2 linked regions of the Homo sapiens genome follow. The protein of the gene in region 1 interacts with the protein of each later gene in a biochemical or structural test. Each region holds a gene or a part of one and is shown on either strand. Other genes may lie near its edges.

Region 1 (4,252 bases):
TCTCGAATTTATTTTAATAAAAATTACATGAATTTGAAAGCAATACAAACCAATAGTCTCAGGAAGCTGCTGAAGTGAATTGCTTGATAATAGGAGGTCTTGAAGGTTTTCACATGTTGAAATTCCTTCTTCAACCATTTCAATATTATTTTTAGAAACATCCAAATATGTGAGCTGTTTCAAACTACCAATAAACTATAAGTAAAAAAAGAAAATCTAATGACTCTATTAACATTAGTAATTTGTAAAAAGTTTAGGGAATAAACTTGATACCAAGTTTTAATTCAAAATTAAATGCTAATACAAGAAAGAAGACTCCCAGGTAGTTTTTTAAATGCCATTAGAAATGTATTCAGTAATATAGCTAAGATGTTCTACTAATTGTAGCATAGCAGAAGTGACAAAGGACATATTCTTTGGGAATTCAGGTATCCATTACCTCCTAAGGAAATAGCATATATGGGGATTCTTGTGGTTTTTTTTATGGGAGTAAACAATTTGTCAGTTGTTAAAACAGAAAGTTCGGCTGGGCGCGGTGGCTCACGCCTGTAATCCCAGCACTTTGGTAGGCCGAGGCAGGCGGATAATGAGGTCAGGAGATCGAGACCATCCTGGCTAACACGGTGAAATCCCGTCTCCACTAAAAAATAAAAAAAAATTAGCTGGGCATGGTGGTGGTCACCTGTAGTCCCAGCTACTCAGGAGGCTGAGGCAGGAGAATGGTGTGAACCCAGGAGGCGGAGCTCGCAGTGAGCCGAGATCGCACCACTGCACTCCAGCCTGGGCAACAGAGCGAGACTCTGTCTCAAAAAAAAAAAAAAAAAAAATTCAGAAAGTTCATGAAAAATATCCTAGTTTACCAATTCCTTGGGCAAAGCAAATTGGGACGTAAGTTCAAGTGATACCATTGGAAAGGACACACTCAACAGTATTAAAAGGAGACATACAAATGTTTATTATGAGAATTCTTAGATTATAATCAAGAATGTGCTCATGAAAAAAAGTAATTTGCTTCTGTTTAATAAAGAATAATTCAATTTTTTTATTAATTAAAAGTAATTATAAAAGGTACAATTCACAAAACTGCAAAGGAGAGCCAGAAATAAGTGATGCCATTTAAAATCTCATATACATACCCCTGGAATAAAAGTCAGTCTATTAGCATCCATCCAAAACTCTTTCAATCCACTTAGTTGCTCAAGTACTTCAGGCTGTTGGGATTAGGGTAGGGGATAGCAGTAATTCAATTAATTTTTATGAATGTCTTTATCTGGCAAAAGAAGCCCTGGGAATTTCTAATAACCTTTAGTTTCAAATCATTAAATAAAAGGAGCAGGGAGAAGGAAAAATAAAAAAGAAGAGCCAGGATGTAAGCCTTTCTACTGCATTATAGTTACTACAGTAAAATTATTATAGAAAATTATTAATGGAGAAATCAAAGAGACATGCCATAGCAGTAGATTACAAAAAACACATTTAAGCTTTGGATTACACAACAGGGGCAAGTTTTTATATAATTTGTAAAGAAATAAAAAATAGGACTCACTGCTTAGAAGTATACAATAAAAATATGCACTCATGCATTATCAGTAAGAAGATACAGCTTTTAGAAAACAGAAAAATTACAAATGTTCCCTGGTGACATTCATTAAGAAGGAGATAAAAGACAACGTGCATCCTAAATGTCCATAATCAGGGAAAGGTAAATAGACAAAGTCATAACTACATGATACAAATATACTGTAATTTAAACCTCTAGTAAAAACTTCTAATTACATGGTAGAAAATTCTTTATAATATGGTGTTGAGGACATCAAAATTAATCCAAGTGTTGTGGCAGACCTTCATATCCAGGCAAAATTTGCTCCTGGGCATTGTCCCTTCAAGTCTGCCCTCTTCAAAGTTATTTCTATCACCTCACAAAGCCATCTGCAATCAATGATCATGTGATGGCACAGAGTACTATCACATCTAATGACCATAGTTAACAGTCATATATAAAAGGCATGCCAATCAGATTTACTGTTAACATATAAATATAGATAAGAATCCCAGATGTAACTTGGATTAAAAGAAATTTCCTTTTGTGCATTACTGTTAAATTCTACTGTAAGTTTTAAAAAGTGTATAATGTTGGAAGACCAAAATGGTACAAAAACTAATGACGATTTTGAAAGCTTGTTGGATTCTTAAAATGAACGAGATTTTTGAAATAGTTAATACGGAAACGGATTCATACAGAACAAATATTGAGAAAGGACGTAACAGATAAATAATTTGGGAAGCACAGCATGTATTTTAGAGAATGAGGTACTCCAAAGTACCATGTTCCTCCTCAAACCTCAGCTGAAATTTATAATATTAATATAATACCCACAGGGCAATACTATAGCAAGCAGTTTTGAGAAATTCCTAGGCTTAAAACCATCATTTGAGAGCTACCACACTTTTAAACAACAAACTTGTAAACTAATTTAAAAGTTTAATAATGATACTCAGCTGGATGAGTTCCTCTTCAAAAAAAAAAAAATCTAGCTTATTTTCTGAGTTCTTTTGGAAAACTCACTAAAGACAAAAGCTACTTAAACACTACTCCTTTCCTTTTAGAGTCAGCTTCATAGCGCACTTGGCATACAAAGCACAAACAAAAAGGTTCTCATTACCACTTCAAAAATAACAGTTGTTTCACTCAATGATTTTCCCCTTAGCTATTAAGTAACATTATAGAGAAGTATCTTATTACTGAATAAGTTAACAAGCAATACCCCATGGAGCTCTCTCTGATTCAGAACTACTTTTACCTGCTGCATTCCAGACTGATGTTTCCCACTTATAATCACTCAAATTTTCTGCTTCCTATGCTAAAAATTGTTTAGTATCTCTTCCATGGACCTCTCATTGATTTTACATTTTATGCTCACTTGTGGTCAGAAGTTCATCTGTCTGGTTAATTTTTCTATCTGTCTGGAAAGTTCTGGCTAAGAAATTTCATATCTTGTAACTAAGAAAAAAAAGTAAACCTTTATCCAATTTGTAAGAGAAATACATTAATTTTCATATTTTGTTCTTCATTAAATATAAGAACTTAGGGAAAGTGAGACTGATGAGAACTTACCACTTCCGTGAATTCGTTACTTCCCAAATCCAGTCTTTCCAGCTGGGTCAGTCTATTCATAGTTCTGTTCATAATGGAGTAATGAAAAATTAACTAGAAAAATATCAATTACATGGAAGCTTTCAAAACAGTCTAAAACATTCTTATGGAATAGGTAATTATTTATGGGCTTTCACATGTTGACAAAATAAAAATATTAATTTTCTAAAAAATTTTAAAAGTCAGATTTCTAGATAAAATAATTATCAGTTATTATCTTATTTTGCCTTCTCATTGGTCTTTTCATTTCTATTTTTAAGAAGCAATTGCAATAAATTTAAACCCACAAGCCAGAATACAAATAATGAGTTTCTATTTTTTCACATAATGAATTTTCATATAGTACAAGTCAGCTAATAAATGTTGGCAGATGTATAATAATTACTACCATAATTACAAAAATTCTTTTTCAAAACTGCTCATATATTTGTAAGACTTTAAGATAACTGTAACTCCGAAAATTAATATTCAAAATGCTAACAGTACGTTGTATTACTCCCCACATGTTCAAATTAAATACAATACAATTCAAAATAAAGTTTTATATGAATCACAAATTAGTAGTTGACATTTATTTTAAATAAAAGCAATAATATACTATTCTTAACTTCCAACTTAACATCAACACTTCTCTGAAATTACAGGAACTTGAAAGATGTACAAACCAGTTTGTAATGAAATAAACTATGTTGCACTTCTATCTTTTCTCTCTCCTTTTACAAAGGTACCCTTTGAAACTAATTCAAACAAATATTTACACTCTTAAGTGGCTATTTTTGTACAACACCTATTATTTAATACATTGAGATGTAACCAGTTACCCAGATAAGAAATTCTGTATTAAGGATTTTGTAGGATATGACAAAATGAGAGCAAAATATAGTTATAATCACAATATCAGTATATTACATTAATATGTTAATACTTTGAAAATGAGTATCATTTAAAATCCACAGGCACTTCAAATTACGGCACGAAAAACACAGACTATTTCTATCTTCTCTGGAATTTTAACAAAAATTAGTAATAAGTAAAATAAAACTCAGTTGCAACATTTCTCCAGCTTTTTAGTCAAAAATATAAAAACAAACACCATCA
Region 2 (3,792 bases), on another chromosome or scaffold:
GTCTAGTCTAAAAATACTCTTTTGCTCTGTTGGCTGTTTTCAGGGTGATAAACTCAGAAAATCTCACTTCTTCAGTGCCCTATTCACTTAACCTGTCTTCTCTGACTAAACAAGATTGCTGGACTTCTCATCCACATCCTGGTCTCTTTAACCCTGGGCCACCTGGGAAGAGGAGGCAGACAGGCCAGGCTGAGAGCAATGCTTTGTCTTTCTAAATACAGCTTTTATTTTGAAATAGTTTTAGATTTACAGAAAAGTTGCAAATGTAGTACAGAGAGTCCCCTTGAAAGGTACCAACCTATAGATCCAATGCATTTACCCCGTAGGCCCTGTGCCAGCTTCCCCAAATGCTGAGCATCTCACAGAGCCACGGCACATTCGTACAGCTAGGAAGTAACGCTGCCATGTGACAGTTAGTGGGGGGACAGCCTTTATTTGGGTTCCTCCAGGCTTCCCACGAGGGTTCTTTTTTCTGTGCCAGGATCCTGTCCTGGATTCCCTGTTGGACTCAGTCATCGTATCTTCTGGCTGCTCTGTGACAGCTTTTCATTTTCCTTGTTTTTCATGACCTGGACCCTTTTGAAGAGCACCGTAGTCTGTAGGCTGTTCCTTAATTTTGGTTTGTTTGCTGTTTTCTCATGATTAGGCTGGGGCTGTGGGTTTGCGGAGGACAGCTCCCTGGTGAGGCACTTTCTTGTCCCGTCATATGGGGGATACAGGACAGGGACAGGCCTCCTCACCAGCGATGTTAACCTTGATCCCGTTGGCTCCGTGGTGCCGGCCACATCTCTCCACTGCAAACCCACTGCCTTCCCTTTCCACACGCGGTTCTGCGGGAGCGAGTGCCCAGGGAGCCAGCAGTCAAGAAGACAGCAGCTAATCTCCACCCTGAGGAATGTCTATGTGTACTCTGTAATTCTTCCATAAAAAACGCCTGTCCCTTCTCCCCGATGTATTTATTACTCAATCATTGATCTGCATCAGCATGGGCTCGTATATTTACTCTACACTTTGGGTCACCATCCAACACCACATTATTTCTTTATTAAGGTGGTAAGACACGGGGCTTATTCTAGCCCCCACTGCGTAGCTGTCGCTCCATTCTCCGGCAGCCAGAAGCCTGGTTCCCACTAGGTATGACTGCTTCCTTATGTGTTCAATCTTTTACATGTGTACAGTCATTTCAGAATTGTTGAAATACCATTTTCAGTCTACTTTCCTTTTTAAAAAATGTCTTTCCCCACTATGTCCTTAGCTGTGGGTAGTTCCATGCAATTCAAAACAATAAATGCATTGCTTTCTTTATGTTTGGATTAAAATAGGAACCAAATCTTGAGTAATTCCCTGAAAAGCCTGAGTTTAATTATCACTGGCATTGGCCTCTCCTCCCCTAGACTGGGCTGATGTCATCCACACGTGTGGCTTCCCCTTTCCCGAGTGGGACAAACGGTTTCCCCTGATTCTTCCTCCGTGTTTCTTAAAGGCAGTTCCAGCGGCTTCATCTGGGTCCTAGGCGTCTCCCTCTGTGGGTGTGGACCCTGCTTCTGTGGGTAGAGCTGGATTAGCAGACAGGCAGGAGTGAGGGTGTCACCTCTGTCTGGGGCCACACCTGTCTTCTTTGGCCTCCTCCATTCTGTTTTGTGGCCAGGGGACAGCCCACTTTCCAGCCACCTTCTGGGTCCCCAAGTCCTCCATGCTGGGGAACCTACTGTCTCCCAAACACATCTAGGTGATTTTGAACACAAGTATGTGAGCTAGAAGACAGTCTAGCTCTTTCTCTCTTTGTTGTAGATCTCCTCACTAGGTCCAGATTTTGGAACCAGAGTCAGAGAATGTCAAGTTCTTCATGTGACATGTGAGGCATTGAGGGCCCGGAAAGTTTATGTTTATGGAAAAACTCAGAGGGCCGAGGAGAACATGGCTACTTATGAAGAAGCTGAATTGGCCTTGGACCAACCAGAACTTGACGAAGGGAGATGGTGGGGGGGCTGGGGGAGTGGAGTGAGTCCCTTTCTTGGAGGACAACGATTTCTAATCACGGCAGCACAATATAAATTTCATCTTGAAATTCTTGAATGACAGCAACCCATATTCCCAAAAAGTTAGCTTAAAATTAGAGTTGCCTGTATTACTAGAATATTTATAATCTGGGTCCATTGGCTCTGGTTTTCCGACCTGCCCAGGGTGTAGCCGGGAGCTTTTAGCCACAGAACATGGCATGATCTACCACTTATAGCCATGGTGTCTCAACTTGGATTTTCTTCCCTAGAACCTTGGTTTTGGATCCCATGCTAACAGTCACCATCAAAAAACAGACAAGAGGTGTTTAGAATAGTCTCAGAAGCCAACTAAATCAAAATTTGGTTATTCAGTTCTCTTTGGTCATTACTTTTATTAAGGTGGACAATGTGCAGACTGTGGGACAAGAAGGGTGCCTTGTCCTGAGGCTTCCAAAGAGCTTCTTGTTTCCCAAACATCCATGAGCTGTTGACAGTGTGAATCTTAGGGCTCTAGCAGGGCACTCCCCTGCTGTAAGCGCATCTGCGTTGGTCTTCAGCAGTAGAGGGAGCATTCATGATGTGAGTTGTTTCGTATAAAACTCATTAACACATTTAGTGCTGGGCCTCCCCACACACGGCATTGTCTCCAGCACTAAGGGAGGGGTGGGCAGAGCGAATCTTCGGCAAGACGGTTCTTTCCACACTCCTGTGTGTCTTGCGCTGAACCAGGTGCCATGGAGTTTACAAAATTAAATGCCATCCTCCCTGCCTCAAGGACCCCATGGCTGGCAGTCTGGAATCCTCCTGGGGAACCACATGCTTCTGCCCCTGGTTTCAGGCCCTGCTGCCTGCAGTTAAGGTCACCGCACACCCTGCCTCACCGGGGCTCAGGCTGCCACTGTCCCTGCTCCTGTCCCTGCCCCCCACCTGCCTACTTCGCCTCAGGCTGTGGAGGGTTTTCCTGGGTCTCTGTGGCCAGCAGCCTGGGTGGAGCCCCAAAAGGAGCCCTGTGTTTAAATCACAAGCAGGAAAATCCTGGGGCTCCAAAATCCCTAAGCTAAAGGGAAAAGTCTAGCTGGGAACTGCTTAGCACCAACGTGCCTCCCGTTCTATTCAAAGTCACCCCTCTGCTCACTGAGAGAAATGCAGATCTGATTGTTTCCTTTGAAGAGGCTAATCAGAAACTCAAAAGAATGCCACCATTTGTCTCTTATCTACCCGTGACCCGGAAGCCCCCTCCCTGCTTCCAGTCTTCCTACCTTTGCTTGGAGTTGTCTTGCCTTTCTGGACAAAACCAATGCTCATCTTAACCAAACCAATGTTCATCTTACGTATGTTGATTGATGTCTCATGTCTCCCTAGAGTGTATAAATCTACAGTGTGTTCTGACCACCTTGGGCACATCTCGTCAGGACCTCCTGAGGCTGTGTCACGGGCACCGGTCCTCAACCTGGGCAAAATAAACATTCTAAGTTAACTGAGACCTGCCTCAGGTTTTCGGGGTTCATGCTATCATCTGGCATGTAAAATCATTCTGTTGTGAAAAAAGAAAAATGTCTTGATTTAGTTGAGAAAATGGGGCAGTGGGAAAGCTGTGCTCTTTTCACAAACAGGGTCACTGTGGGGCCCATGGCAGAGCTCTCACTCCGCTCTCTCCTCTGCAGCTCTCTACGGCGTTCTGTTTGAGAAGAGCAAGGAAGCTGCCTTCGCCAATTACCGCCTGTGGGAGGCCCTGGGCTTCGTCATTGCCTTCGGGTACAGCATGTTTTTGTGCGTGCACGTCAAGCTCTAC

Evidence for each region. The genes of interacting proteins can lie anywhere in the genome.
Region 2: the proteins of ERBIN (region 1) and UNC93A interact in a test that uses a peptide from one of them, tested with the Homo sapiens proteins (one large-scale study listed by IntAct).

Annotation. Positions count from the first base shown.
Region 1 is NC_000005.10:66,020,249-66,024,500, reverse strand, and holds part of ERBIN (erbin), read right to left. Parts: intron 3,180-4,252; coding exon 3,116-3,179; intron 1,212-3,115; coding exon 1,137-1,211; intron 196-1,136; coding exon 51-195; intron 1-50. UniProt on the Homo sapiens protein: Acts as an adapter for the receptor ERBB2, in epithelia. By binding the unphosphorylated 'Tyr-1248' of receptor ERBB2, it may contribute to stabilize this unphosphorylated state.
Region 2 is NC_000006.12:167,311,523-167,315,314, forward strand, and holds part of UNC93A (protein unc-93 homolog A), read left to right. Parts: intron 1-3,664; coding exon 3,665-3,792.